Linked DNA regions of Homo sapiens: region 1 is linked to region 2. The links come from fine-mapping of genetic effects on gene expression. Tissue or cell type: whole blood. Region 2 holds a variant in brackets; the other region holds the start of a gene. All regions are shown on one strand. Distances are from middle to middle. Region 1 holds the start of PGAP1 (post-GPI attachment to proteins inositol deacylase 1). Region 2 has its middle 29 kb from the start of PGAP1.

Region 1 (15,486 bases), 29 kb after region 2:
TGAACTATGAAGCTGCCTGCTTTTCAGAAAGTACCAGAAACAAACATTACCTGAAGAATGATCAAAAAGCCTGTCAGTACCTTGAATTGTGGAAGACCACCCTCTCAATTCTTTCAGCTGCAGCCATCTATCCATTAACTCATTCACTCAATATTCCAAGAAGTACTCAGAGTCCCGATTACAACATTGTGTACATAACTAACTCTTCTCCAGGGTCCCTTTCCCCCTAAACAGTTAAATATTTCCTCTTTTTCATATGTCATATTGAAAACTACAGAATGTCAATAAAAATCTTTTAAATGACCAGAGATGAAAGGCAGTTTTTCCACACAAAAAAAATAGCAATCTGACTGTGAATAGACTTTTTATCAGCAACAACAGATGTCAGAAAATAATAGAAAACTATCTTCAAAGTACTGAGGGAAATGAACCATCTATCCAGAATTTTATACGCAACTAAATTATCACAGAAGGGTGAAATAATAACATTTTCAGATGTACATATTTTAGGAGAGTTTACCCATAAACCCTTCTTGAAAGAACTACCAAAGATCTAATTAAGCAAAAGCAAAAATGAACTATGCATGGAGGAATAAAATATAAGAAGCAATGGATATTACAATGCAAATGCTATAACCAATTTGTAGGCTTTCTCTCCTCACTCTCCAAGTGTAAGAAAGGTGCCAAAAGTGATATGTAACTGGTTATTCTCCCAGTAAATCAGGAAATTCTCTTCTCAAATGCTGAATACAAAATCATAATAAGTTAAACATTATGATCTATACATTTTAAGATATTTTAATGTATCATATAATGACATATATTTTAAAACTTTTAATATGATATAACATGTTATATGTTTGTAGGAGGGGTGCAGTGGCTCAAGTCTGTACTCCCAGCATTTTGGGAGGCTGAAGCAGGCAGAACACTTGAGCTCAGGAGTTCAAGACCAGCCTGGGCAACATGGCGAAACCCTGTCTCTACAAAACAAAAACAAAAACAAAAAATCAGCCAGGTGTGGTGGTGCATGCCTATAGTCCCAGCTACTCAGGAGGCTGAGATGAGAGAATCACCTGAGCCCAGGAGGTCGAGACTGCAGTGAGCCATGACCATGCTGTTACACTCCAGCCTAGGTGACAGAGTGAGAACCTGTCTCAAAACAAACAAACAAACAAACAAACCCAAACACAACTGTAAACATGTCTGAACGAAATTTCAATTTATTTGATATAGTGATTGCATTAGTAATAGTGATAAAATAGTTTCGATTAAAACTTTATTGAAACAATTTTGGAAAGTAGAGAAAAAATTAAAAGAATGCTGAAATGATCATTCATAATCTCATTACCAAGGGGTAAATAGTGTTAACATTTTTTCACATTCCCTGAAGACACTTTTCTATGCATTTTGTATAGTTGAGAATAACTATATATACAATTTTGTTTCCTAAATGTTTCCCTTACAGTCCTACATTTTTTGTATGACAGGGATGATTATCCCCGAGGGATTACCCCTGATTATCCCCATTGTACAAAATTCCTTTCTTCTTATTGTCCTTTTGAATAGGTAGTCTGTATTCCTCAGCCTACTACCTATAAGACACTTGGGCTGTATCAACTTTGAAAACTTTTCTTTGATTTTTAATGCATCTTTATTCTCTGGCACTGAAAAATCTGAATTCCTAACAATAGTTTTATCGTAAGTATTTGTTATAGTTAAATTTATTGTTTCAATTTTCAATTATAGAATTGCTTTTAAATTATTTTATTTTCTACTGGCTACTGCACTTTTATGGTTCAAAGTCAAAAGATATATAGAGAGGTGACAGTCCATGTTCTGCTGCTGTACTACAGGCTTGGTAATTAATTTATAAAGAATAGGTTTATTTGATTTTGGAGGCTAGGAAGTCCAAGAGCTGGCATCTGGAGAGGGTCATCCTATGGGTGGAAGATGGAAGGCAGAAGCGAGTACACAAGACAGAGAGAGGTACCAGGGGCCAAACTTGCTTTATAATAACCCACTCACACAATAACTAACCTGCTCCTTTGATAGTAACATTAATCCATCCATGAATGATCTGCCTTCATGACCCAAATCACATCTTATTAAGCCCCACCCTCCTAATACTATTGCATTGGGGATTAAGTTTTTAACACATGCACTTTATGACACATTCAAACCATAACACACACACACACACACACACACACACACACACACAAATCCATAGATAAGTTTTGTTTCTACTCCTGTCCCCTTCACCTCATTTCCTCTGCCTCTAGGTAACACTTACTTTCATTTTCCTTCCAGTATTTCTCTTTCTCACACAAAAGACAACATACATATATACTGTTCTGCACCTTGTTCTTTCCCTTAATGATATAATCTTGGGAACCTTTCCATTTTAGCTGACTGACCTGTTCTTCATTAGTTAACCAAATATTCTTTATAGTTCTTTATAATGAAGAATATAAAAAACTCCTTTTCTTTTATTCTTCTACCTGGACTAAATACACAGTTCTTGTTGGTCTGAATTAGAGACTCTATGCCATGCAGTCCAGCTGGACTTTGATGTAAGCTGAATCTTCCTGAACAATTAGCTCTTAATACTTCCCATTTCGGTAGCTTCCACTTACCTATTGTATAAAACTCATATTCTTTTTTCTACTCTGTTTACTGCAGTTTTGGCTCCTATTTACCTTTCTAGTTCTATTTACTCTAAATCTTTATTTAATAGTCTTTGCTATGTGAGTCCTGGTTCAAAAGAATCACCTAGATCAATGAGAGATATCCCACCTTCCAACCTCCAAAGCAGGATTTGGATCTAAATTGACAAGAGGAGTTATAACCAGTAGTGACTAGCTAAAAGGTTGGTTAAATTTGGAGTTGGGAGTGGCCATGAGGGAACTGTGTACACCCTGAAGTCGGCATGTGTACTAACTTGTCAGCTTATTCTGGATTCCCAAGTTCCTTTTTACCTTAAAAAAAAAAATCCCCATTTTAACTGGAGTTAGTTTGTGTTCTTGCAACCAAAAGAATCCTGACTAGAGTTCACGCTCTGAGGGGCCACTAAAGGATTTTTGCTGGAAAGTAGAATGATGACTGGGAATAAAATCATGGGATTAATAAAATGTAAGGGATAAGTAAAAAAAGTAAGTCACATGAGATGGAGACTGAGAGGCTACATCAACAGGAGAAAACCAGTGGAAAATGATGTTACAGAAGACAATGGAGGGCATTGTTTTAAGAAAGAAGTGGCAAATGTAGTAGAAGGATCAAGTAAGACTGAAAAGTGTAAACTGGATTTGGTAATTAGGTCAATGGTTACCTTTGCAAGAAAAGTTTCATGGGAGTGGGAGGGGGGCAAAAATTACAGTGTAGCTGAGACATGAAGGGGAGATGAGGAATTAGACATAAGTATTGATCACATCTTTAGGAATCCTGACTGAGATGAGAAGAGCTACAGGTGAGAGCCACGAGGAAGATTTTTGAAAAAAAACAACAACACATATTTATATGCTTTGGGGAGGGAGGATAGAAAGGGAGAGATTGATAGAGCCCTTAACCTGATAGAACTAACTTCCTGAAAAGAAAGGAGCATGAGATGGGAACATAAAACATAGCTAGAGAGATGTGCTTTTTATGTCCTCTAAGGATAGCAAAGTACCATGGTAATGCTTACTATATGCCAGTCATTGTGCCAAACACTTCAGATGTATTAACTGAATTAGGACTGGGTGAAGATAATGAACTTAGGAATGAGAAGCTGAAGCAATGTGCATCTGAAAATCAAAATTATCTCTGTAATATGAAGATAAGGTTATGTACTAAAAACCTACTAAAAGAGAAGGAAGAAGAAATGTAGGGAGCTTAAAAAGTGGCAGGGAACTTAAAAAGTGGTGGTCTGAAATATAGAAGAGGAAGGTGGTGACCAGAAACATATATAAGTATTTTTTGAGACAGAGTCTCATTCTGTTTGTTGCCCAGGCTGGAGTGAAGTGGTGAGATCTCGGCTCACTGCAACCTCTGCCTCCCAGGTTCAAGCAATTCTCGTGCCTCAGCCTCCCCAGTAGTTGGGATTACAGGCGTGCGCCACCACGCCTGGCTAATTTTTGTATTTTTAGTAGAGATGGGGTTTCACCATATTGGCCAGGCTGGTCTCGAACTCCTGAGCTCAGTCAATCTGCCCTCCTCGGCCTCCCAAAGTGCTAGGATTACAGGCGTGAGCCCTGTGCCTGGCCAAGTATTTTTGAAGAGTTAATTCAAATGACTGTGTCATTTTCTCTAGCAGTAGTCAGATACAGTAGTGTCAGAGCTCAGAGCCAGATTATATTGTCCCAAGGTTGGAAGTTTGTAAGTAGAGTGGGATAGAAAGACAAGCGGTCAAGACAGTTGACAGCTCTGGCAGAGGGTGGTTGAAGTGATGCTCAGTAGGGTTAGGTTAGATATAAAAGTAAAGCTAGGAGTGGATAATGATGGATAGGAGAAAAGACAGTAAAAAATTAGGATAGAAAGATTACAAACATGAAGAATCCATTGACTCTCTATCCCACTCCTTTCTGAGTGAACAGTCAATGCAGCTAGTTGCCACAACTCATGAAGGCCACCAAAAGAGGAAGCTCTGTCATCTTGGAGTTCAGGGATTTCTCCATAGAACAGAGTCCTCAGGCAGTACAGGTCCGTGCTATTCAAAGTGTAGTCCACTGACCAGTATCATTGGCATCACCCAGTAGTTTGTCAGAAATGCAGAATTTTGGGTCCCACCCCAGAACTGTTAAATCAGAATCTTCTTTTTTTTATTTTTATTTTTTTGATAGAGTCTCGCTCTATTGCCCAGGCTGGAGTGCAGTGGTGGGATCTCAGCTCACTGCAACCTCCGCCTCCTGGGTTCAAGTGATTCTCCTGTCTCAGCCTCCCAAGTAGCTGGGACTATAGGTGTGCACCACCATGCCCAGCTAATTCTTTGTATTTTTAGTAGAGACGGGGTTTCACCATGCTGGCTAGGATGGTCTCAAACTCCTGACCTCGTGATCCGCCCACCTTGGCCTCCCCAAGTGCAGGGATTATAAGCATGAGCTACTGTGCCCGGCCCAGAATCTGCTTTTTAACAAAATCTCCAAGTGATTCACATGCACATTAACTTTAAGAAGCACTGAGATAGAGATGAGGGAGTATGGATTCACCCTGGGTTTATTTGTCATAATACTACTCCTACCATGCTAGGAGAAATAAAGAGGAGACGTTCTGCCTTTGATGTTCTTTAGCACCCAGACTCAATGTATTCCCCCCTTTTTATTTATAACTTAAAGCCTTCCCCAAATGATTTGTAATCCTCTGCACTCACTGGTAATTGCATCCCAAACCCCACATGCATTCTCTTTTATGGTCAACAATGTCAAAACCCTATAGTATATATTCCTCTTTATCACATTTATCTCTTAACATCTTGCGATCAAAATGGGTTCTTCTTGATAATCCAGTCATGTTGGTGTAATTCTACAAATTTAACACATTCTATACCTATTAATAGAATATAACAGACATGACATTCCCAAGTGAAATCACCACTTCATAAAGAATTTCAGGCTGGGTGCTGTGGTTCACACCTGTAATCCCAGCACTTTGGGAGGCCGAAACAGGTGGATCACTTGAGGACAGAAGTTTGAGACCAGCCTGGCCAACATAGCAAAATGCCTTCTCTACTAAAAATACAAAAAGGTAAGCCGGGCACAGTGGCTCATGCCTGTAGTCCCAGTACTTTGGGAGGATGAGGCGGGTGGATCAAGAGGTCAGGAGTTCGAGATCAGCTTGTCCAACATGGTGAAACCCCGTCTCTACTAAAAATAAAAAATTAGCCGGGCATGATGGTGTGTGCCTGTAATCCCAGCTACTCGGGAGGCTGAGGCAGGAGAATTGCTTGAACCAGGGAGGTGGAGGGTGCAGTGAGCCGAGATCGCGCCACTGCACTCCAGTCTGGGCAACAGAGCAAGACTCCGTCTCAAAAAAAAAAAAAAAAAAAAAAAAATTAGCCAGGTGTGGTGGTCACACCTATAATCCCAGCTACTTGGAGGCTGAGACACCAGGATCACTTGAATCCGGGAAGCGGAGGCTGCAGTGAGTCAATATCGCGCCACTGCACTCCAGCCTGGGCGACAGAGCAAGACTCCGTTTCAAAAAAAAAAAAAAAAAAATTAGCCAGGTGTGGTGGTCACACCTATAATCCCAGCTACTTGGAGGCCGAGGCACCAGGATCACTTGAACCCGGGAAGCGGAGGCTGCAGTGAGTCGATATCGCGCCACTGCACTCCAGCCTGGGCGACAGAGCAAGACTCAGTCTCAAAACAAACAAAAACGACACGTCTCATACAGGACTTACTTCAATGACATATTACTTAATTGCCCTCCTGATCAGTACCACCTACAGCTCCCCTGTTATCCTGGTCTTTCCAGACTTATCTCCCTACAAAAAAGGAGACTGCTTCCGCATTTTCCCATTTCTGTCTTTCTCCGTCAATACTCCACATTCCGTAGCTAGCTGTGTTTGTTTAGACTTGCAACTGTTTCTGTGCAGGGTAAAGACTATCTTGATTTTCAGGATCACTCCACTTCTTCTTCATAGTTTCGTAATCTGAACATCAGGGTGTTGTACAAGATAAACTATAAGCTTCCTTTTGGTTTTAAAATTCTTTGATTTTATGTATTGTAGCCAAACTTCCTCTGCACAGAAAATATACCAGAAAATCAGCCCAAGTTCAATGAAATTCATTTAGTGCCAAAGACCATTCTAAGAATCCTGTGGTTACTACACACACACGCACACACACACCGTCTACTGTTGAGTCAGCTTTAAAGAGTGATGTCTTTTTCCTAACATTCTAGTGTTTTGAAGCTGCTACAAGTGATTGATTTCGAGCTTTTTTTAAAAACTCCTCCTTTGTACAAAACAGAACCGAAATTCTTCAAAACGAATTAAGTCATTTGCGAGTTTGAATGGAAGCTGGACGAAATTGCCTCCTCCAGTTAACGTGGAACCCATTCCCCAAGAGATGGAGGTTCTGGAGAGCAAGGCGAGTCAGCGTCAAACTGATTACGCAGATACCTGTTGGGGACGTCAGTGCTAATAGATATTTTGGTAACATATTTTAAGGACTAACGATGCTTTTTGTGATTCAGGCTTTCATCTGATACCAAGAGCAGAATCTCGTCGGCTTGCGGGTGTTTTTTTTTTTTTTTTTTTTTTTTTTTTTAATGAGCCGGTGCTTTTAAGCGCTGTTACCTACTGGGCCCAAGTAGGCGGTAGAAGAGGGAAAATAAAGCCATTTGTTCCCTCTTCAAGCTAACTGCTCCAGAGAGCTGTGAGTGTGCTCTACTACCGTTGGGAAAACCGAAATTGCGGAGGCCTGAGTCTTTTCAAAATTGAACGGGAAGCGTTTTTAAACTGCCGCAGGGAGAGGCGTTTGCGAGGTGACAGCTGATGACCCCTGGGCTTTTAAGTCCTCCTCCCCTCTCTCGGTCCGCTCTCGGTCCTTAATCGCCTCTGGACTCTGGGCTCTAGTCCCCTCCCCAGATTCACCCATCTGACACCCGCCTCCTGCCCAATCCCCCGGCTCGTCTCCAGGGCTCCCGCGCTCCGCCCATCCCCCTCTGGATGCTTCCTCTCTCTCTCTTCTTTCCCTCCCGCCAGCCACTCCTCGCGTCTTTCTCTCCCCACTTCCCTTCTTTCCCCTCACCCTCCAGCCCAGCCCACCCTGCTTTCTCCCTCTTTCTCTTTCCCGTAGATCCGCGCTCGCGCTGCAACACCTACTCCTCCCTCGGCTCTGGGAGTCGCCAGGCCAGAGGCGCCGCGGACCTGGTGCGCGCAGGCGCACTGCGCGGCTGGCGAACGGGCAGGCCGGGCATCAGCGCAGGCGCGCGCGGCTGGGGCTCGGCTCCGGGGGTGGCGGTCGGACAGTGTCTAGCACGCTCAGTCCGGGCTTGGGGCCCCGCGGCGGAGAAGGAGGTAGAGGGGGCGGCGGCGGCGGCGGCGGTGGTGGCGGCACCATGTTTCTTCACTCAGTTAATCTCTGGAACCTGGCGTTTTATGTCTTCATGGTCTTTCTGGCAACCCTGGGGCTGTGGGATGTCTTCTTCGGCTTCGAGGAGAATAAGTGCAGTATGAGCTACATGTTTGAGTACCCGGAGTATCAGGTAAGGTTCTGCCCTCTCCTCAGCCGGGCGCTCCAAGACTCTGGCCCCTGGTGCCTTTTTCCTTCTGTGGGTTCGTCCTGCCTTGGCTCTCTGCGCCTCTCGGGCCCCCTGTCCCGTCCTCGCCTCTGTTTTCTCCGCCCGGGGAGACTCTGCATCCCCCTTCTGCCCCCCTCACCTCCCCTTTGTGTCCCTTCTTCACGGTGGGGTGTTTGTTAGACGATTTCCCGAGAGCATCCTCGTGGTCGTCCTCGTAGTTACTCCGCTGTCCCTCCGCCTCCTCCCCAGCCCCAAATCCTGGGCACAAGCTCTTCTGACTGGCCGGGCCCAGCCCCCCTCATGCCCAGAGAGGCAGCCTCAACCCTTCTCCCTAAACCGAAGCTCCATCCCTCTCGCGTTCTTGCCTTAACCCGTGCCCCAGGACCTTCCTTTGCTTCCCACGCGCCTAAATTCCCCTCGCGCCCGGTGATCTGCTCGTCAGATTTCGCATTTCTAGAAAGGGACCGAGCGTCTGCAGAGTGTATATTGGCTAGATAGTTCCCAAGGCTGTTTTTAGAGACTCCAGGGTTTTGCCTATGGGTAAACTGGCGAGTCATTGAATTGGAAACTAGATCCCCTCTTGGAAAGATGTTGCAGATCCTCTTATTTTGCAGGTTAAGGGGCCGTGCGTGTGTGGGCTTGCCTGTGTGTGTGCATACCTGTGTTTATGCATGTCTCTCAGCAGCCGAGCCTCTTAATAGTTGCATACAAAATCTATTTCATGGTGCTATTTTTGTTTTCTCGCTGGGTTCGGAGTTTAAGAGAGAGCCAACCCTTCTCTCTCCACCCCTACCGCTTCCATGCCATTTTGAATGTTTTCAATCAATGGCTTCGTTAGTTCGGCATAGTAGGATCTAGAATTTCATTCATGACTAGCTGTAAAAAGAGGCGCAGACAAATTACACAACTGTCCTAAGAGAATTTTTCCGAATGATTCTTTTATTTCTAAGTGCATCTCTTAATTATGGACTACCTATTGTAATAATTCCCTACCATAAAATGTATATGCACTATAACATATATTGATAAAATACATTTTTAGTATACTCTTAAAATCACAGCAGTTTTTTTTTTAGGGTGAAGGATGCAAGTCCTGATTGCTTCTTTGTACAAGTCATTATGGAGGAAGCCTGTTACTTGATTACGCTGCTATTATTTTGATCTTAAGACTACTTAAGGTTTAAATTGCTGAAGAGCATTCTTTCCCATGGGAAAAATTCTAGTAAATTTAGATTTCATTTGTGTTTAGATCCTTACCTTGGTTTTGCATTTATGATGATAAGAGAGTGGAAACATTTGGTAGGGATGCTATCGAAGGAGAAGATTTTGACATGTTACTGTCGTCTCTGTTCATTTCTAAGCAAACCTTTTTAGTTTAGTATTTTAAAAAACTGAAAATAGAGCTATTATAATTCCCTCCTTATTTTTGGTTTAATAATTAGGAAACTCCCAATAGATTGAAGTAGGTCACTTTAGTTTTGTACCGCATTGAAGAGTTTGGTTAAAATCATTTTGTGACAGTACAGTACTAATTCCCATTTATTTTTAGATTTCCTACAATTATTGAAGCTATTTTAATATTCACAGAAGTAGAAATTGTTCTCTTTAGCGTTGGGAACAAAGCATATGGATCTCACAGACGCATTTCCTGCCTCATAAATTGACTGGAAAAACAGAAAATTAGTGTAGCTAATGGTAAAGAGCTCTTTGGGTTTTTATTGTTGTTGAGTAGTCTAGGTTTAGTTATTTTGGTTTAAGTTGCTTTTTTGGGGTTTTACACTTCTATTAATAATTTGCTAATACAGTAATAATCACAGTGGCAGAAGTTTTTGATTTTTAGCAGGTTTTTATGATGTAAAAAGCTGTGTTAATTCATGATAGTATTTATATTGTATTCTTAAGTCTTTTTGTTTTGCATACCAGGTCATGTTATCTTACAAATACAATTAAAACCAGCCTATAGAAATGAGTCATTTTGAACATAGTGAGATTTCTGGATAAATGAGGCCATTCTGTTGAGAACCAAATGGCTTTCATGAATAAAAATGTTTTAAAGATATTTTACATATTGCTTACTTTTAATTATATTTTATAGTCAGCTCTCTAATTGTTCACAGGTTGATACCCAGATGTGAGATGTCCTAGTCATTGGGTTTTCTTCTTTCTTTTGATGCCTTTCTTTTTTTTTACTGCTCATTTGCATCTTCTTTAGTTAGCCAGCAGAAATAGAAAGGTGGTTGAAACACATTCAGTTTTATTATCCATTTTTTTAAAAGATGGGGCATAAATTTGAAACTCTTTGCAAAAATGAAGTTTTGAATTTAAAATTGTTTGATTATCTCTATTCATCTTCTACCTCTGGTTTTCCCAGATTCACTTATTCAGAGTTAATTGAACATCTCACGAACCCATATCTCAAGCCTACTAGGCAAAATATACTTTATCCTTTAAAGCTTCTTGCCCTATTACGACAGCAAGGCAAAACTTTTATTTGGTAGCAAATGGTTTTAGGCAAATTGCAGAATTTTAGAAGAAACGTCTGAGTTGTTTCTCTCATACAGTGATTTGTCTGGCTATCTTCGTATGTGTAACCTAACGGTTGCTCTCTGAAAGGAAATGTTGGCGTGCGTCTATAGTCGCAGGTACTCAGGAGGCTGAGGCTGGAGAATCGCTTGAACCAGGGAGGCGGAGGTTGCAGTGAGCCAAGATTGTGCCATTTCACTCCAGGCGGGGCGACAGTGAGACTCTGTCTCAAAAAAAAAAAAAAGAAAGAAAAAAAGAAAATATGAGTCATATATTTTGTTATTAAGTGTGTTATTTATTTAGAAAGTCATTTATTGAATGACTAGTCTTTGCCAGGTATATCTAGCTACTTGGTGTAGGTGAAAGGGAATTAGAACTAAATTATACCTTGTGTCTTTATGTCTTGATAAATACAATGGGGGAAATGGGCATGTAATGTATAGTTACAATATAATGTACTGAGTTTTATAATTTCACAATAAGAGAGTATGTACAGAGCTTTTCATATAAGGGAGAGCATCCAAGTTTGTCTTGGGTGTTCAAAGGCTTTAGAGAAGATGCAAAGTGAACTGGGACATGGAGGGTGTATGAAGTACTGAAAGAACATTGCAGGCATAAATAGTATATGTGAAGGTGGTAATGCGCTGGGACACATTGCATGAACAGTATTTATAATATATTATCATTTATGTTAAAACTAAAAAATAATCGATAAACATATTTGCTTGTATATATGTAAAATATCTCTAGAAGCACACACAAACTGATAACAGGTTGCCTTTTAGGGTCAACTGGATGGCTGAAGGACCATGGGTAGGAGAGAACCTTTTCAATGTATATCCTTTTGAATCTTGAATTCAAAAACATATTAAAAATACATTTTAAAGCATGTCATGTGTAAGTTATAAGAAGGTAGGTAAGGGCGGGATGAGGTGGCTCACACCTGTAATCCTAGCACTTTGGGAGGCCAAGGCGGGCAGATCACTTGAGCCCAGGAGTTCAAGACCAGCCTGGATAACATGGCGAAACCCTGTCTCTGCTAAAAAAAAAATTCAAAAAATTAGCCAAGTGTGATGGCATGTGCTGCCTGTAGTCCCAGCTACTCAGGAGACTGAGGTAGGAGGATCACTTGAGCCCGGGAAGTCGAAGCTACAGTGAGCTGAGATTGTGCCACTGCACTGCAGCCTGAGCAACAAGAGTGGGACCCTGTCTCAAAAAAAAAAAAAAAAAAAAAAAAAGTAGGTAAGAATAATTAGAGCCAGATTTTAAAGGATGTCTCTCTCTTAAGCTTTGTTGTGTGTGTGTGTGTGTGTGTGTGTGTGTGTGTGTGTGTCTGTGTGTGTGTGTGTTAGCAGTATGAACTATGGATTATAGAAGGGAGACGAAGGCAAGGATAGAGACAAGTCTGAAAAATTCAGTTGTCCTTAAGGCCTTTTTTTTTTTTTTAATGGAGCCCCTATAACTATTCTTATGGGGGATGGTGAGCAAAGGCCTTACTGAGACCTCTTTGTGAGAACTTAAAAACTATGTGAAGTTAAAAACTATGTGTATTCATCTAGATCAAAATCTTTTTTCTTTTTGGTTAGTTATGGAAATAAAACTTTATTTTTCAGTTTAAGTTTACAATTAAGTAATATCATAAAATAGATATTTTAGTTTCTTAAATCAGCATTTTTCTATTACCTGGGAGTTTATTAGAATTTTTACCTTTTGAGTTTATGTAGAGATGAGAAGAACCTGAACTAAGGCAGAGTCAAGGAAGGAGGACAGCAGAGGCAGGATTGTGGAGATAATATTTAAATACAAAGGTAATTGATCTTAATATGGTAGAGGGGTTGCTCATTTAAAATAAACTACATAGAATAAAAAATTTATATTGGAGTCCTGCTCCTGTAAGTATTTTCCTTTTATATCCCTTGACCGTCTTCTGTTTTCTTATCAGCATCCTATTTGTATGCCTATGCTTTTTCTGTCAATGTGGTCAATTACCTCTCCTGGGTCTTTGCTATTCCCTTTCAACTTGAACTCTGCCTGGAAATGGAGTTTTGCCATTTGCCTACAACTCCCACCATTCTTGCCTCCTCTCTTATTTTTTTGTTCTAACTTATTTGCCCATCTCCATACTTTTTGAAAAATTCTGTATATATTCATATTTTAAAAAATATTCTTTCTCACTATAAAATTGCTTTCATAATAGTATTTTATGAAGTATATAAAATATTTTTTGCTTGCTTTTCTGTCTCAAGAAAATTAAATATTTCTTTTTAGATATATTTGATAGTTTCCTGTTCTTCTGAGTTAATTTTCGACTTGTCCAAACTCTGTTTAGCTACTGTACTAAAAGAATAATGGTGTACTAAATTGGGAGGAAATAGGAAACTATTTCTTTGTTCTCTTATGTTTTCTTTTTATTTAATTTGTACCTAAAGAAGTAAACTATCACATCATTTTCATTTTTGATTGTATTCTGTGCACAATCAGTATTGGGACTAATTTGAATTGAAGTACATATACCAAATATAAAACGAATAGTGGGGTTAGTATTTCTGTATTTTGAGTATTTGGGGAGATAACTAAGATTGCTAGTATCTTAATAAGCTTACAGTCTCTGCAGATGTTTCTGTGGTGTTATTGGCATAAATTGTTTACAAAGGGATATTTAGGAAGGTGCACAAATGATCAGAATTTTGTTGTTTTGTGTGTGTGTGTTTTTTTTTTTTTTAGAACAACGAGGGTTTTCATTAGTCATTAGCAACATTTACAGGTTTTGAAATTCACTCCATAGTTAAATTCTTTTATCAAGCACATGCCACATGTACAGCACTGCTAGATCTATGTATACCTAAATAGACATTACCGTCCAATGTAATTGGTTTCACTCTTAATGGTTTCTCTCCTTTAAAATAAAAAAAGAAAAGGAGCAAAAGGGTGTATGTATACTTTACTACCACAGATGTCTACCTTTGAGGATGACATTAAGAGATAATTTATACTAAGCTGAAAAAAATGTAGGTGAACTACTGACTCAGTAGTTAGGTGAGCTGCTGTATTATTGGTATACAATAATATGAAGTGCAGGGTAGTTTAAAGTTTGCCAGCAAATCATGCACCTGGCCCATGAAAACTGAAATAGATACTAATTCACTGGAATGTTTATGGTAAGAAGAGTGTACATGTCTTGACCAAGACATGGCTATAAGGTTAAGATTAATTTGTTACACATATTGTAGGCCAAAGCATATTAAGTTGAGAAGTCAGAAAGCTGCATTATAAAACAACTTACTTTCTTTTGAAGATATAACAACTGAAATAGATAGTTGGGTCTGAGTAAAAGGAGAGACATTACAAAATAGTTAAAAATGGAAAAAAAGAATTGATTTGATGATGGAAAGCCTTTATCATTTCTAAGTATAATTGATACTTATCCAATTATGTTAACATGTAACTTGTCGACATATACCAGTGCTTTCTGCCATTGTCAGTGGCTATTTTGAGTAATTTGTATTGGTTAGAAGTTCACGTAGTCCTCTTTTATGTTTTCCTAAAGACTACATGGTTCAAAATATACACAATTCAAGACTGATTCTCTATATGAATAAACTACAAGTAGAACTTGTTTTGTGTATGAAGTGTGGTTTTAATATCAGTAATATTTTTATATTGCACTATTTCAAATTTGCGTAATTCAGAATTGCATATGGTGAGGCTGAATTGTATTAATAAAACTGATTAAAGTGAAACTACTTTTTTTTAAATGTAGAAAATAGAACTTCCAAAGAAACTGGCAAAACGCTATCCCGCATATGAGTTGTATCTTTATGGAGAGGGATCCTATGCTGAAGAACACAAAATTCTCCCTTTGACGGGTATTCCAGTTCTCTTTCTTCCTGGTAATGCTGGAAGTTATAAGCAAGGTAAGTCTTACTGGAAGTAAATTTTGAAAGCTATAAAATTCAACTCAAGAATTTGAATCATATCCATACTCGGTGAATCAAATAAAGTAAATGAAATGCATGCTGTGTGTGAAGTGCTGTGCTGGGCTTACAGAGAGACCAAAATATAATATTTTCTCTGAGAGAGAATAATGTGAGAAATACTTAGAAAAGTTGAAGACCACTTTGCAAAGAGAGGGGTACAAAGAATAAGATAGAGTAGGATGGGATAAGTAGATGATAAAGGGGAACCCCTTGGGGAATCAGCAGAGGAAACACATTTATGTTGGAAATGGAGGGTAAAGAGAACAGAACCTTAAGCATTGATTAGGGAAGTAAATCAGTGACTAATGTTATGCAGAACAAGAGAGATTCGTTTTCTTCTTTTGGAGTTATTTAAGTTAGAGAGATTTGGAAGTACTGGGGGGAACATAGAAAGGTGAGATAGGGAAGTTACGTGTACAGATTCCAAATTGATGCTGGCTTGGAGATACAGCAGTTATTTCTGGCGTAACAGCCAAATAACCTGGAATTAATTTCGTTTTAAACTAAAACCTGCTTTCTTGTTATTTGATGGACTAGAATTGTTATGTAATGAGACTAGAATTGTTTCAACATGTGCAATTATTTACGTGTTTATTCATCTAGCACGTGTCTACAGGTATCTACCATGAGCCAGGCTGTATTCCAGGTATTAGGGATCCAGAGCATATCAAGACAAAGTCCCTCTCTCATCAAATTTATATGCTTATCAGGAAGACAGCAATCAAACAAATATGTCAGTAATGTTAAAAGCTAGAAACAAAAA
Region 2 (15,486 bases):
CCCTGTCCTGTTGAACACAGATGAGGCCATGTGACTTCCTGTGAACAATGAATCATGAGGAGGATTGATGAGTGTCACTTCTGGGCCAAAGCTTTAAGAACCTGCTCGTGGGTCTCCATGTTCTCTGTTCTTCATTTCTGCAATCATGGAAGCTTGTCTTGAGATGAAGCGTCTGTCATCTTTATGTATTCCTGAGTATCTATGAAGATTACAGCAACCCTGATGACTCAAGATGGACAGGCAGTATAAAGGAGAAATAAGCCTTGTTGTTGTAAGCAGCAGAGATTATCAGGTTTTTAATGTAGCATAATTACCTTACCCTGACAGAAAATATACATAGATATTTGTGAGTATTTGTATGTAAATGAAACTGTATGTATATATGTATGTGTATACAGAGATACACATATATAAAATTCATCATCGGTATGAAGGTAGGTTCATACTCTATCATTCTTTTTTGACTTAATATTTCACTACAAAAATTTTCCTATCTTACCAATTTTTGAAAATATGATTTTAATGGCTGTATATTATTTCATTTCATGGACTATTCCATTTCATGGCTGTATATCATTCCATTTCATGGACTTACCATAATGTATTTATCTCCTTTGGGCAGACATTCAGATTGTTTCCAAGTTTGACCCATGTACATTTTCAGTAAACATCTTTGAGGACAAATATTTGTCCACCGCTCTGACTCAGGATAAATTTCATACTTACGATAAATACCAAGAAATGAGATGACTGTTAATTCTAGAGCTGACTCTTTTCTCACCCTCTTGGCTTCTTATAGCTTCCATGATTGCCTCATCTCCATGGGGCTCCTCTATGTCAACAAGGTAAAATAGTTCAGCTGCCAACCCACAGGTACAGAGGCACTGAATCTCTGGCAGTTTTAATAGATGGGATAAAAATCCTATCCAAAGACAAGGTTGAGATTTTCTTCACTTAGGAATTTTCATTAAAAAACTAAGAGTAAAACAAAACAATACTTACAAAATGGAACTTTCTGCTGCATATAACTTCTAGCCAAAGAGTACCCTTCAGGGTTCCCAGTCCTGAGGTCTTTTACTCACCTCCTCCCCAACTGGGTTAGATGTGATAGTTGCCTGGTCCCTCCCAGAACCAGATTTCTGGCATTGTCTGCAGCCCACTCTCACATATGTGCCAATCCTACCCTGTTGCTCTTCAGGAGCTCTGCATGAACCTGAAAGTAGCACTTTCTCACTCTATAACTGTTGGTTTCCTGTTCTGTCTTTCCACTAAGTTACACTGTGATCTTCTTGAAGGCAGAGACTGTATTTCACTTCCACAACCATAATGATCAGCATGGTACCCAGAACTTATCTGACTTAGATAAGTGTATACATGGATGCAAGCATGAACTAATGTGTGGACTCATACATATGTGAATGCATGAATCAATGACTAGTCAAAGGGAGATATGAGGAGTATATTTTTCCATCTCCAGCATCTAAAAGGGACTGTCTTCCCACTTTCAGGATAGTTAATTTTTACATATAAATGAGCAGTTTATTTGTAAGGTATGGGTGTTTATAAGATTGGTGTTCATAACTTGCAGAATTCATGTACCTTTGAGGAACATTCTGAAAACCAAACAAGTATTTCTTTTTTCTTCCCTTAGGATTAAGTGGCACTTATGAAAAGGAAAGAGAAAATAAAGGAAAATAAGAGAATGAGGCAAGATCTTTATCACCATGTCTTTCTGAAGTGAGAGACACATTCCTTTATTTAACTAGTCAGTGCCTTGATACAAAGTGTGAGGAGCGTGTAGGGAAACAGGCTCTCTTAGTCATCATTGGTGGGAGTGTAAATTGGTGCCAACATTTTGGAGGTAATTTTGGGAGTATTTATCAAAATTCTAAATGCATATACCATCTGGCCAAGCAATTCAACCCCTGGGGGTTTATGTCCCAGAATGCTTCCATAATGCATAAATATGAATGTATAAGGATGTTAGTTGCAGCACCATCTCTAATAATCAAAATTTGAAAATAATCCAGATGCCCATCAAAAGGGGATTGGATAAATAATGTTAATCAATATAGTGGGATCTATCCAATTTAAATTATTTAGTGATAAAAGCTAAATTGCACATAACATGAACCCACATTCTAGAAAGAAGATGTAAATGCATCAGGATGTAAGACAAGAAGGATATATTGCAAATGTAGTGGTGGCTACCTGTGGGGAGTAGGGATTGGGGTAGGAGTAGAAGAGACTTTTTTTTTTTTTTTTTGAGATCAAGTCTCATTCTGTCACCTATGCTGGAGTGCAATGGCACAATCTTGGCTCACTGCAACCTCCGCCTCCAGGGATCAAGTGATTCTCCTACCTCAGCCTCCCTAGCAACTGGGATTTTAGGTGCCTGCCACCATGCCTGGCTAATGTTTGTATTTTTAGTAGAGATGGGATTTCGCCATGTTGGCCAGGCTGGCCTCGAATTCCTGACTTTAGGTGATCCACCCACCTCGGCCTCCCAAAATGCTGGAGTTACAGGCGTGAGCCACCACACATGGCTGGAAGAGACCTTTTTGATCTTATGTATTTACTTCTGTATTTAAAAAAATTATCTAAAACAAATATGCATTGCCTTTTAAATAAATATTTTAAAAATAAAAACAATAATTAATTGCTAATTTGTCAAGCCCTGGGCTGAGAATTGACCTATTCTTGGGCATTAGAAATCTTTAGTGATCGTAAACATTTCCTTTGAGGTCATTTAAATGATGGGAAGAACAAAACTGAGCAAAATACTAGAAATATCAAAATTTCAGCCATCTGATCCACATTCAAGTCCTGTTTTAGAAATATCATAGCCCTATGTTGAACTCTTTTTTACTATAGAATAGGAACTTTTGAATGAGACCATTTAAAATTATCCAAGACTCCAATTCTGGAAGTTTTTTTTTTTTTTTTTTCAGCTTTCTGCCTCACCTACGTGTCAAGTCAGACTTGGTGTTGGTTGGATTTATTTTAATTTATCCTCAGCCTTCCAAGAGCAAGTCCCTCAGTAACAGTTTCTGAATGGCCTGTTATCTGTTATGTTTTGTTTGCACATGGAAGTTGTCACGTGTTCTCTGTGACAACATGATTTCTCAATATTCAAGGGCTGAATCCTTTTCCTGACCACATTTTCTACTTGGCTTGGGATCTTCTAGAGGTTACCCATACCAAGCTCTTTTAAACTTACATAGGAATTAGTTGCTATTTTGAGCCAGCACCACACCAAGCTCTAGACAACTTCAAGCTCCCTATTATTCATATCTACTTCTAAATAATTAAAGCCATGGACAACAATATCTGGCTACATCAGCCAGTGCTTTGCGCAGGCTGAAGAATGGAGAAAGTTCACTGAACTGCTGCTATGCACTTTATTGCCATAGCTCTGGGCAAAACCTTCAAGTGGTTGCATTTTGTATGCAGGATTGCTGGCCAAACTTTTGAATTATGCTACACAATGTCACAGGCCATTTCAGCTGGCGTCCAGACACTCCTAGTATAAAAACAACCACCAGCACCCACTGTACATTTTCTCTCATTGACATTGCTGGGTGCTTTTGTTTGGTAATAGCTTGGGGCAGGGAAGAGGGGTGATGAGGATAATGGAGACGATAACATGACACTGAGGCCATTGGGTGGATTGTGAGCCCCTAGAACTACAGAATATTTTTTTTCATGAACAGGACTTGCTTTGGGGCCCAGATGTCAAAGAGTGACACAGAGTTGGAGAGGGCCATTTTTTCCCACCTCCCTGTGGAATCCAGTATTGTTCTGGCACATGTGATGGGGACTTTGGAGACATTGGGAGACAGTATTCTCAGCACATTCTTGGTCAAGTGTTTCGCAGTGGACTTCCTCAGTGAAGGCAGTGATAAAAATTTCTTCCAGCTGCTTGCCAGGACTTCATGTTGACAGATGAGAACTGGAGCAGACAAGAAAAAATACTAGGGATGCTCCAAGAGGGCCAGGACAGAGATTTCTGTAGGACTCTGTTGTATCCTCTCACATAGTATGCACTCAGTACCTATTAATTAAGTGGGTGGATGATTCTAGTAGTGATTAAAGCTGATAGATTGGTTTGTGAATATGAGGAAAGCATATGTTCAGGGACTCCCAGAAATAACCAGGACCATTTTGAAGAAAAATAGCTACTGTTTAAAGAAAATAAAATTTGAATCCCATTATAATTTATACAATGTGTGACCTAAATTTGTTTCTACAGGTAAAGTGTGTGACCACATTTGTTTCTACAGGTAAAGATAGGTGACAATTGGATTAGAAATATTTTCTAAACCACAATTGGTAAAATAACTTGTAAGAAATCAATGATCTACTTGGCTTTTTTTTTTTTGGCAGGAGTATAAACATCATTTATAAAATTAAGTCATATTCATCGTGGTCTTGACTAGATTTTTCCATAGGATCTATAACTCCATACCTAAATTATCCTGTTTCTAAAAATGTAGTGATAAGTTTGGCTCTGTGTCCACACCCAAATCTCATGTTGAGTTGTAATCCCCAGTGTTACGAGAGGGACTTGGTGGGAAGTGATTGGATCATGGGGGTGGATTTCCCCCATGCTGGTCTCATGATAGTGAGTTCTCACGAGATCTGATGGTTTAAAAGTGTGTGGCACTTCCCCCTTTGCTCCTTCTCTCTCCTGCCACCATGTGAGGAAGATGCTTGCTTCTCCTTTACCTTCCAACATGATTGTAAGTTTCCTGAGGCCTCCTAGTCATGCTTCCTGTTAAGCCTGCAGAACTGTGAGTCAATTAAACCTCTTTTCTTCATAAATTACCCAGTCTCAGGTAGTTCTTTATAGCAGTGTGAGAACAGACTAATACATGCAGTAAATATGCTTAAGGAACAAAAATTCTATGGATACGGTATAATTTACTGAATGTTTTTGTCCTCTAGCTGGATTAGTTGAAACTGAAGCCAAATGTGTGACTACTTAAGGCTGTGAATGCTTAAAGACTTTGAATAGCCATTAGAGTCTGTTCAACTGTAACTAATAAGCTTCCTTCTAGTTCTTAGACTTGGTTTATCACAGAAGTTCCTGTTTGCATTTTAAAATTCATTTCTAGGTAAGGTCTTGGCTAAGGAGAAGAAGGAAGGAAAGGAAGGTAGATTCTGTTTGGATTTTAAGGTCAGGCAGTCAGTTTGGCAGCTGGGCTTATATAACCTTTAACTTCTCCTAATTAGAAATTTTCAAAGTACCTGGCTCTCCCCAGGATGCCAATTTGCTAGAGAATCTGCTTGCAGCCTCCATGTAATCAATTTGAATCTTTAACCAACAAAAATAACAAAAGCTTCAGCTCCATGAAACAAGCTATTCTCCATTGTTTGACTCATTGTGAGGCTGGGGTTAACCTCACAATTTTAAACTCATTCATCTTAATGTACACCCTATTCAATTACCCCCATGTCCTACAAATAGGTCAAACTTTCATAAACCTTCAGAGAGAAGCCAGTCATAGAGGAGAAGTGTTTTCCTCTCACTGGTGTTTGAAAGTAACTCTTTTAACATCATTTCCAGATAAAGGTTTTAAAAATACGGCCAGGCAGGGTGGCTCAGGCCTGTAATCCCAGGGCTTTGGGAGGCCAAGGCGAGAGGATTGTTCAAGGCAAGGAATTTGACACCAGCCTGGGCTGGTCTCTACAAAAAAATTAAACAATTAGCCAGCATGGTGGCGCACGCCTGTAGTCCTAGCTACTTGGCAGGCTGAGGCAGGAAGATCACTTAAGTCCAGGAGTTTGAGGTTACAGTGAGCTGTGATCACTCCAGCCCGGGTAACAATGAGACTCTGTCTCTAAATACATATATATAGAGTCTCTAAATATATATATATTTTTTATATATAAATATATTGATTGACCTCTCATGTCTTTATATATAAATATATATTATATAATATATAAAGACATGAGAGGTCAATCAATATATATATTTATATATAAATATATATATATATTTAGAGACAAATATGTGTAAGATGTACATTGGTTCACTCCAGAAAGGTAGGAGAGATCACAGGTAGATAAGAGACAATGGGTTGCATTTATATATATATACAAAGTTTGTTATTCTTTTACTATGTGAGAATGACAATTAAGTTGTTAAAATTAACAATCCATTGAATATCGGTTGTGATAAAGAAATCAAGTATCTTTTTAACAAGAAAGTGAAAAGCAAAGGGAAATTTCAGCTTGTATTAAAAAACTTAAGAGCTCAGTTTATTTCAATATAGAATTTCAGGATAATGTGCTAGAGTGTGAATGTACCCATGATTCTATAACTTTCCATGCTTGTCTTCATCTTTTGTAACTTTATCCCCTTCCATAGTTCCAATTACTATTTATAGCCTTTCTAAAGCTGAGTTCAGTAGCTTTCCTTCCAACTTCTTTCTTTACTTTAAAAAAAAAAAAAAAAAGTGGTCAGGTGAGGTGGCTCACACCTTTAATCCCAACACTTTGGGAGGCCGAGGCAGGTGGATCACCTGAGGTCAGGAGTACAAGAGCAGCCTGTCCAACATGGTGAAACCCCATCTCTACTAAAAATACAAAAATTAGCTGGGCATGGTGGCACATACCTGTAATCCCAGCTACTCAGGAGGCTGAGGCAGGAGAATCGCTTGAACCCAGGAGGCAGAGGTTGCAGGGAGCCGAGATCGCGCCATTGTACTACAGCCTGGGCGACAGAGCAAAACTCTGTCTCAAACAGCTTTAATAAGGCACAATTCACGTAACATTACTATTCACATACCATACCGTTCACCTTTGTTTTAAAGTTTACAATTCAGTGGTTTTTAGTATATTCACAGGACTGGCAACTATCACCACAATCTAATTTTAGAACATTTTCACCACTCCTGTGAACCCAGAAAGTATCTGAGACAGGTCTCAATCAATTTAGAAAGTTTATTTTGCCAGGTTTAAGGACGTGCCCATGATAAAGCCTCTGGAGGTCCTGATGATGACACTGCCGTTGGAAAATTATGACTGAGACAGTGAAAGACACCTAACCGGGGAGACTGATTTGAGTAATAATAAAGCTCCGATCCCCTGCACAGCTGGCTCTGCATGAATTACCCTTTCTCTATTGCAATTCCCCTGTCTTGATAAATCGGCTCTGGCCAGGCAGCAGGCAAGGTGAACCCACTGGGCAGTTACAATGACATGTGCCCAAGGGGGTCAGGGCACAGCTTGGTTTTATACACGTTAGGGAGATATAAGAGATCAATCAATATGTGTAAGATGTACATTGGTTCACTCCAGAAAGGCAGGAGGGATCAGAGGTAAATAAGAGACAAAGAGTTGCATTCTTTTGAGTCTCTGATTAGCCTTTCACTGAATACACAATTTACACGTGAGAGGTGGGTAGAAGAATAGTCACTTATGCCTTAGTCTGGCTCAGTGATTTGTACATAAACAATAAGGCAGAGGAAGCAATCAGATATGCATTTGTCTCAGGTGAGCAGGGGAATGACTGTGACATCAGTCCTTTATCCAGCACCTGTGAAGATTAGCTACCAATTTACGTTGCCAAGGTAAAATACAGCATAACTGTTTTAGGGTAAAAATCTTGAGTCTCACAAGGAATTTTCTTGTGGGCAAAGTGTGAGGGAGGTATGTATTATGTTGGTGCAAAAGTAATTGTGGTTTTTGCCATTTAAACATAGGAAAAACCACAACTGCTTTCGCACCAACCTAATAGCTTTTTTATCTTTGTAGCTATCTAATTTAGGAATAAAACAGGAGCAGGTTTGCCTGATGCAGTCTCAGCTTGACTTTTCCCTTTGGCTGAGTGATTTATTTTCTTTCATAACCCAAAAAGAGACTCCATATCCATCAGCAGTCACTCCCCGTTTTTTACTCCTCTACCTCAATCCTAGGCAATCACAAATCTATTTTCTGTAGCTATGGAGTGCCTAGTCTGAAAATTTTATATGAATGGAATCGTACAACATGTGATCTTTTGTGACTGGGTTCTTTCACTTAGCATAATGTATTCAAGATTTATTCATGTTGTAGCATGTATCAGTACTTCCTTTTAGTTACTGCACAATGTTCCATTGTATGTCTATACCACATTTATTTACTTACTAGTTGATGGACATTTGGATTGTTTCCTCTTTGTGCATATACTAGAGTCATCTTTGTCCTTTATTTTCCTCTATTCTTCAACATATAATCGGTAGGCATACCTATTGCTTCTGTCATTGTAATGTCTTTCTCATATGTCTCTCCTGTCCATCACTACTGCTATAGCTTAGTTTTGTGATATCACCATTTCTCACTTTGTATTACTCCAAACAGCTTTCTATATGTTCTTTCCTCGCCCAATCTTGTCTCCTTCCCTAATCCATCCTGAACACTACAGTTTTAGTGTACTTTGTAGTCGCTTAAAAACACCAAATAGATTTCCGTATCCTATGGTGTTTCTAAAATGCAGACCCTATGGATGAGGGATGGGTTTGAGATGGGGGTGGCAGGCGAAGACTTTTAAAATATTTTTATTTCTGGGCCTCCACATTCTGTAGAACTGGGGTAGAACTGAGAAATCATTATTTTAAAAAGATAGATTCACAGGGGAATTCTATCAAACCATAAAAGATGAGATCATTGGAATGCTATTTTATCCAGTTGAGAGTACTGGAAAAGTAAGAAAACTTCTAAAAATCTTTTAAGAAAACCATAAACTAATCTCACTTATGAGGCATAAAAAATCTTAAAAATTAGCAAAGAGGACCAATGGCATATTGACATAGGAGTTAAAAAGAATCTATTTAGGCAGATAGTGAAGTAAGAAAGTCCTCGGTAAGGTTTTCTTTTTTATAAAAAGCAGCCCCCAAATCCTTTCTTTTCCTAACAAAAAGCAGCCTGAAAAATCAAGCTGCAAGCATAGATAAGCAAGCTAAAAGCTTGCATAGGTAAATACCAGCAGCTGTGCCAATAGAAGAAAAAGGCTACCTGGGGGCCAAGCATGTTCAATATGGAGGCTCCATCTTCCCCTTTCTTTGTCAACGATATGTACAGTAAGGAACAGACAACATGGCGCCAGCCATGTGGAGAGTCCATCTGCATAATAAAAGATTAGGGTGGTATGGCCAGCTTTCTCATGTGCTATGCAAACGTCACACCTAGTCCAACCAATCTCTCTCGGGCCCTGTGTAAATCAGACACCACATCCTCAAGCTCCTCTGTGAAACCTCATGCATTTCACCACGAAACTGGAAGATCCAGTTAGGGGTCTGCAAGAGAGAGATCTAGTCTCTTTTCTCTTTCTTTTGCCTATTAAAATTCTGCTCTTAAACTCACTTCTTGTGTGTTCACGTCCTCAATTCCCTTGGCATGAGATAATGAACCTCAGGTATTTACCCCAGAAAATGACACTTCTTCAGTATTTAATAATAATATATAAGTATTATTATAAAATGTATTCCGAGAATACAAGAGTGGTTCCTTAGTAGAGCATCAATTAATACAATTAATCATATTAATAAAGCTAAGGAAAAAAATCAGATTGCTGCTGCCATAAATGCCAAAAAGGTATTTGGCAAACAAAATTCAACATGCATTTATGTTAAAAATACTCAATTAATAGAAATTGATGGCTATTTCAGCCAAAGCCAGCTTCCCACCTAATGGAAAATTTTTTTTTTTTTTTTTTTTTTT[C/TC]TGAGATGGAGTCTTGCTCTGTTGCCCAGGCTGGGAACGATCTTGGCTCACTGCAACCTCTGCCTCCCGGGTTCAAGTGATTCTCCTGTCTCAGCCTCCTGAGTAGCTGGGATTACAGGCACGCACCATCACGCCCAGCTAATTTTTGTGTTTTTAGTAGAGATGGGGTTTTGCCACGTTGGCCAGGCTAATCTCAAACTCCTGACCTCAGGTGATCCACCTGCCTTGGCCTCCCAAAGTGCTGGCATTACAGGCATGAGCCACTGCACCTGGCTGGAAAAACATTATTAAAAGTAGTAAGAAGACAAAGATGACCACCATGTCCATTACTATTAAGCCTTGGAAACAGGGATTAGCCAATACAATTATATGAGAAAGTTTTTTTTTTTTTTTTTTTTTTTGAGACAAGCTCTTGCTTTGTCACCCAAGCTGGAGAGCAGTGGTGCAATCATGGCTCACTGCCCTGGCTCAGGTGATCCTCCCACGTCAGCCTCCCACGTAGCTGGGACATCAGTTGTACCATCAAGCCTGACTATTTTTGTTGTTGTTGTTGTTGTAGATGAGGTTTTGCCATGTTGCCCTGGCTGGGAGAAAGCATTTAATTACACAAGAATCAGAAGGAAAATAAAAAACTATCTCTTTCCAGATGATGTGATTACATATCTAGGAAACAAAAAATAGGCCTGGCTCAGTGGCCCACATTTCTTGTAATCCTAGCACTTTGGGAGATGAGGTGGGATCACTTGAGCCCAGGAGTTCAAGACCAGCCAGATCAATATAGGGAGACCCTGTTTCTACAAAAAAATTTAAAAATTAGCTTGCCTGTTGTCTGAGCTACTCAGGAGGCTGAGGTGGGAGGATTACTTGAGCTCTGGAGGTTGAGGCTGCAGTGAGCAGTGATTGCATCACAGCACTCCAGCCTGGGTGATAGAGCAAGACCTTGTCTCAAAAGAGAGAAAAAAGAAAACAAAAGTAAATGGAGAAATTAATATAAATAATAAGAGAATTTGGTAAACAGGTAGCATACAAAATTAATATAAATAAGTCAATAGTCTTATATAAATACATAATAAGCAGACAGAAGAAATAATGCTTGATACCTATAAGCACTTCTGAGAGTTTTTGTAACATATTCTACAGCTGAGTAGGACTAGGTGGTTAGATATAGAAGTGGCAAAAACAGCTTTGACTTTTCCTTTTGTAACCTCCTGTATGAATGATTAACAATAAGTTGATATGCTTAAAACAAAACTAATTAGTAATAGAAGAAAGAATAATAATTTATTTTAGTTTTCCAGAGGATTGTGATGGATGGGCTAAGATGTAAGGCATCCACATGAATCCTGGAAGGTCAGAAGCCTCCAGACCTTCACCTCTTCCCACACTCCACCCCATATTCCTTATGCCAGAAAAGCCCCGCCTAGTTGCAGTTCCCTGGCACAGCAGGTTGTTTCATTGCTCTGTGCCTATGCTTTTTGTAGGAACTACAGAAGGAGGTCTCCTTTCAAGGGTCACACTCACTGAGGCCTCTTGAGTGCCCTCCTCTCTCCAACCCTCATCCCCAGCTCCGGGTAGAATTTACTACTTCCTTCTTTGTATCACTCCATGAACCTTGCTCATTTCCACATCTGCTTCATCCCTCAAGACTGTCTGACTCCTCTCCAAGCATACTCCTTGCCCTAATGTATCTGGTCAGTAAATTGAGTGAGTGAGAAAAGAAAATATTTGGCTTAATTACTTGATGGGTGGCTGTCTCAATTTCTGGGATAAGAATCTTTCAAATATCCCTACTCTGGTTTTCCCAGTCAAAATATTTGTCACATATCATGATGGTGAATTAGTTTTGAAACATACTATAAAAGAAATATTCATACTTCTTTGAAGTAAAAAATGACTGTGAAAAATATTTCCTTTTCAAGTTGTATCATTTGCAACCAAGAGGAGAGAAGGTACCATTGTATGTAATTAAACAGATTTTCAACTTTTTAATAGATTGTCTCTATAAGTTAAAGATACTTATGTGCACAATAGTCATTGCCCCCTCTAATCTAGTAGTTCAGAACAAAGCTAGAGCTGTAGGACCCATGAGTGCTGTGTCCTCCAATGCCTAGGGGTACTGTTAGTGAACTACCTTAAGAAACCCGAAACAGAAATTTGCGATGCAATCTGAATTCCAAATGACTTGCAAGCAGATTATACTCTAAAAATTCATTTGTAAATTGAGGACCTTGAACTCTTCAAATCAAGAGGAAAAGGCAAATGAAATAAAACATATCTCTGATGACATATAATTAGAAAAATAACTTCTGAAAGTAGTTGTCAGGATAGAAGAGAGACTTTTCACTGTTCACACTTTTTACCTTTCGAAATTTGTACCATGTGATAATTATTCCTCCAAAAAAGTTTATTTTATTTAAAAAATGTTAAAAGTGTTAAATTATAGATTTAGATCGTTTCTCTAGTGTGAAAGTGAACATATATTGTTTCTTTAACTTCTGGTCTCTTTCTCCTGCTGTTGAACTTGAACCTGCTTACTGTAAAAATTACTCTACATGCTGGCTTCCCCTTTCTGTAAAAATAAGTACATCCTGGTGGGAGTAACTTGTTTTGTCTTAATCATAAAATGAGTATCTTTCACAGTAATATTTATTCCCTACTTCTGGGGTTTTCTTCTGTGTGAAGGGACATCAGTTAGTATAACTCTCCTGACCCTCTGCATCCACACACTCTACCCTAGGGAAGGGAGTGACCTACCTGCTGAATTTGGGAGCCCCATGCTTCCTCCTCTCCTCCTCTTGGGACCAGTTACCCACAGGAAGCACCCTTGTCTCTAAGCCAGTGTTATAGGACCAGACCTCACACAGATCGCCAGCAGTGGTCCACACCTGAGTGGGAATGTCAGTCTAATTCTGGGATGTAGTATTTTTCCCAGACATAAGTGGCATTTTCCAATAGCTGCTTTACAAGTAATCAAAATGATATGTTGATCTCCACCTGTCTTACCCCAAGCCTATCTCTTCAAACCTCAAGGAAAAATGGAGGTAGTATGTATTTGTCCCAGTGGATATCACCTGCTATGCCTTTCTTCAGTGGTGCTCTGAAAAAAAAAACAGGAAAAAAAATATTCAAGTAAGATGCATTGAAAGCATATTGGTAATTCAGAAAAATATATTAAAATGAGGAAAATCTAATTTCAGACTGAATTTCCTGTGCTTTATTCCTTCATTTCTCCCTATTTTTGTCTCCTCCTACTATTTCCTGGCTTGCGTTACATTCTTATTTCCTTAATCAGTTGTTCACTCACTACTCCTTCATTCATCCATTTAACAAACATTTAGTTAACTCCTATGTGCCAAATGAGAACATAGCATTCCAAGACGACTAAAACAGTCTGGTGGAAGAGATAGATAAATATATTGCTAGTTAAAATGCAATCAGATAAGTACAGTGGCAAAGAAGTGCACAAAGAGTTATGGAGGCATTGAAATGCGACATCTAATCTAGCCAGGGGGAGCCAGAGAAGGTTTCTGGAAGATGTAGAACCTGAGCAGCATCTTAAAAGATGAGTGGGAGGCCGGGCATGGTGGCTCATGCCTGTAATCCCAGCACTTTTGGAGGCCAAGGTGGGCAGATCATCTGGGGTCAGGAGTTCGAGACCAGCCTGGCCAACATGGTGAAACCCCAACTGTACTAAAAATACAAAAATTAGCCGGGCATGGTGACATGCACCTGTAATTCCAGCTACTGGGGAGGCTGAGGCAGGAGAATTGCTTGAACCTGGGAGGCAGAGGTTGCAGTGAGGCAAGATTGTGCCATTTCACTCCAGCCTGGGAGACAAGAGCGAAACTCTGTCTCAAAAAAAAAAAAAAAAAAAAAAAAAGAGTGGGAAAAATAAGTTCTGATAGTTCTGATGAATAATTAAACATTTTTTCATTGCCACTTTTATCTCCAAGGGGGTGAATTTGCACAAATGATTTTTAAAATTTTTTTATTGTAAATTGACAATTTATAATTGTATGAACTTATGAGGTCCAAAGTGATGTTATGATTTATTAATACAATGTGAAATAATTAAATCAAGGTAGTTAACATATCCATCACCTCAAATATTTAACTTTTTTTTTGTGGTGAGACATTTGAAATTTACTCTCTTAGCAATTTTGAGATGGAAAGCAAGCAACCTGTGCGTTGTGAGTATGCTTTTCAAATGTGATGCCTGGCTCTGTCATGCTGGTTGTCGCAGATCCTTTGGTGCACCCTTGGCCTACCTCTGGTTGCAGCTGCAGCTGCAGCTGTGGTGGACAGTTCCATGTATGCTGGTAGGATCTATTTCCTGTACCATTGTATGCATAATGCCTTTTCTGCCTCTAGGTTTCTTTGGAAGCCTTGTACCTAGTCCAAGTGCAAGCGCAGCCCAGAAGTGTCAGTGAGTTAATACCCCTGGGAGCAACTCTCGACCAGTCGGGGCTAAAGTCAGTCAGTGCACAGTCTCCTGTTCTTCAACATGAATTCAGGAGACATTCTTTGTGCTTCTCCGAGGTTTTGGTGGAATTGAGCCCCTACTGTCTACAGAAATGACCTAAATAATACATAAGTTATCGACTTTTCTCCTTCCCTATATCAGTCTGCTTTACTGTCTCACAATCCTGCTCCCTGTGATCAGCCCAGAAGTTCACTACCTGCACCCAAGCCCTCATCACAGGTTCAAAAAATCCAAAGATTTTAATTATTCAGAAATAAAGAGCACTGGGGCCACCCAGTTCATTGGGGAGTGAATTCTTTTATAGAACTGAGCTCTTATCTCAATCATATCAGCTAAAGTATCTCAATAATTAACAATCTCTGTTGTTTTTTTGCTTTCAAAAGATATTTTGTTGTGAAATATTTCATATCTACAGAAGAGAAAATACAGTGTAAATGAGTAGTGTAAAGGATAAAACAAGGCCAGGTGTGGTGGCTCATGCCTGTAATCCCAGGACTTTAGGAGTCTGAGGCTGGTGGATTGCTTGAGCCCAAGAGTTTAAGACCAGCCTGGGTAACATAATGAGACCCCGCCTCTACAAAAAATTTCAAAAATTAGCTGGATGTGGTGGCATGTGCCTGTAGTCCCAGCTACTTGGAGGCTAAGGTGGAAGGATTGCTTGAGCCTAGGAGGTCAAGGCTGCAGTGAGCTGTGATTGTACCACCTGGGCAACAGAGCAGGACCCTGTGTCAAAAAAAAAAAAAAAAAAAAAAAGAATAAAATGAACAACCATTCAGCTTATAAAATAAAGCATAGCCAGTGCCTTAGAAACCCCTTATATGCCCACACCCCTTCCGCCCTCACAGGTGTAACCCCAACCAGAATTTTGTGTTCCTTGTTCCCTTATTTTTTATCATAGTATTAGCATATGTATGTATCACTAAACAATATGTCATTTAGTTTTGCCTGTTTTTTATATTTTACATAAATTATTTATATTCTTATTTAACTTGCTTTCTCTTTTCTTTCTCAAGGTTGTTTTTCAGATTTCTCTATGGTGATACATTTAAGAGTAATTCATTCATTTTCACCATGGTACCGTGTATAAATATACTATTCTTTATGTAGCCATTCTACTGTTGATGAACATTTAGGTTTTTTCTGTTTTTTTTTTTTTTTTGTAGTTACAAACAATGTTACTATGAACATCCTTGTACAGTGTCTCCTGAGTACATGTACAAGAGCTTCCATTATATGGAGTAGAAATACTGGGTTATGGTCTGTGCATGTTCAACTTTTTCATGTACTACCAAACC

The links.
Region 1: it holds the start of PGAP1, and the variant in region 2 is fine-mapped to the expression of PGAP1 in whole blood (INTERVAL, PIP 0.99).

Annotation. Positions count from the first base shown.
Region 1 is chr2:196,919,171-196,934,656 of GRCh38, reverse strand. PGAP1 (post-GPI attachment to proteins inositol deacylase 1) reads left to right here and starts at 7,950. Exons shown (of 27, transcript NM_024989.4): 1 at 7,950-8,187; 2 at 14,507-14,660. The coding sequence starts at 8,041. RefSeq lists a silencer at 7,752-8,001.
Region 2 is chr2:196,947,834-196,963,319 of GRCh38, reverse strand. No RefSeq gene overlaps it. Among named protein-coding and RNA genes, the nearest start is that of PGAP1, 29 kb to the right of the region's middle. RefSeq lists a silencer at 1,186-1,295. The variant C/TC (reference allele first, on the strand shown) is at 9,709.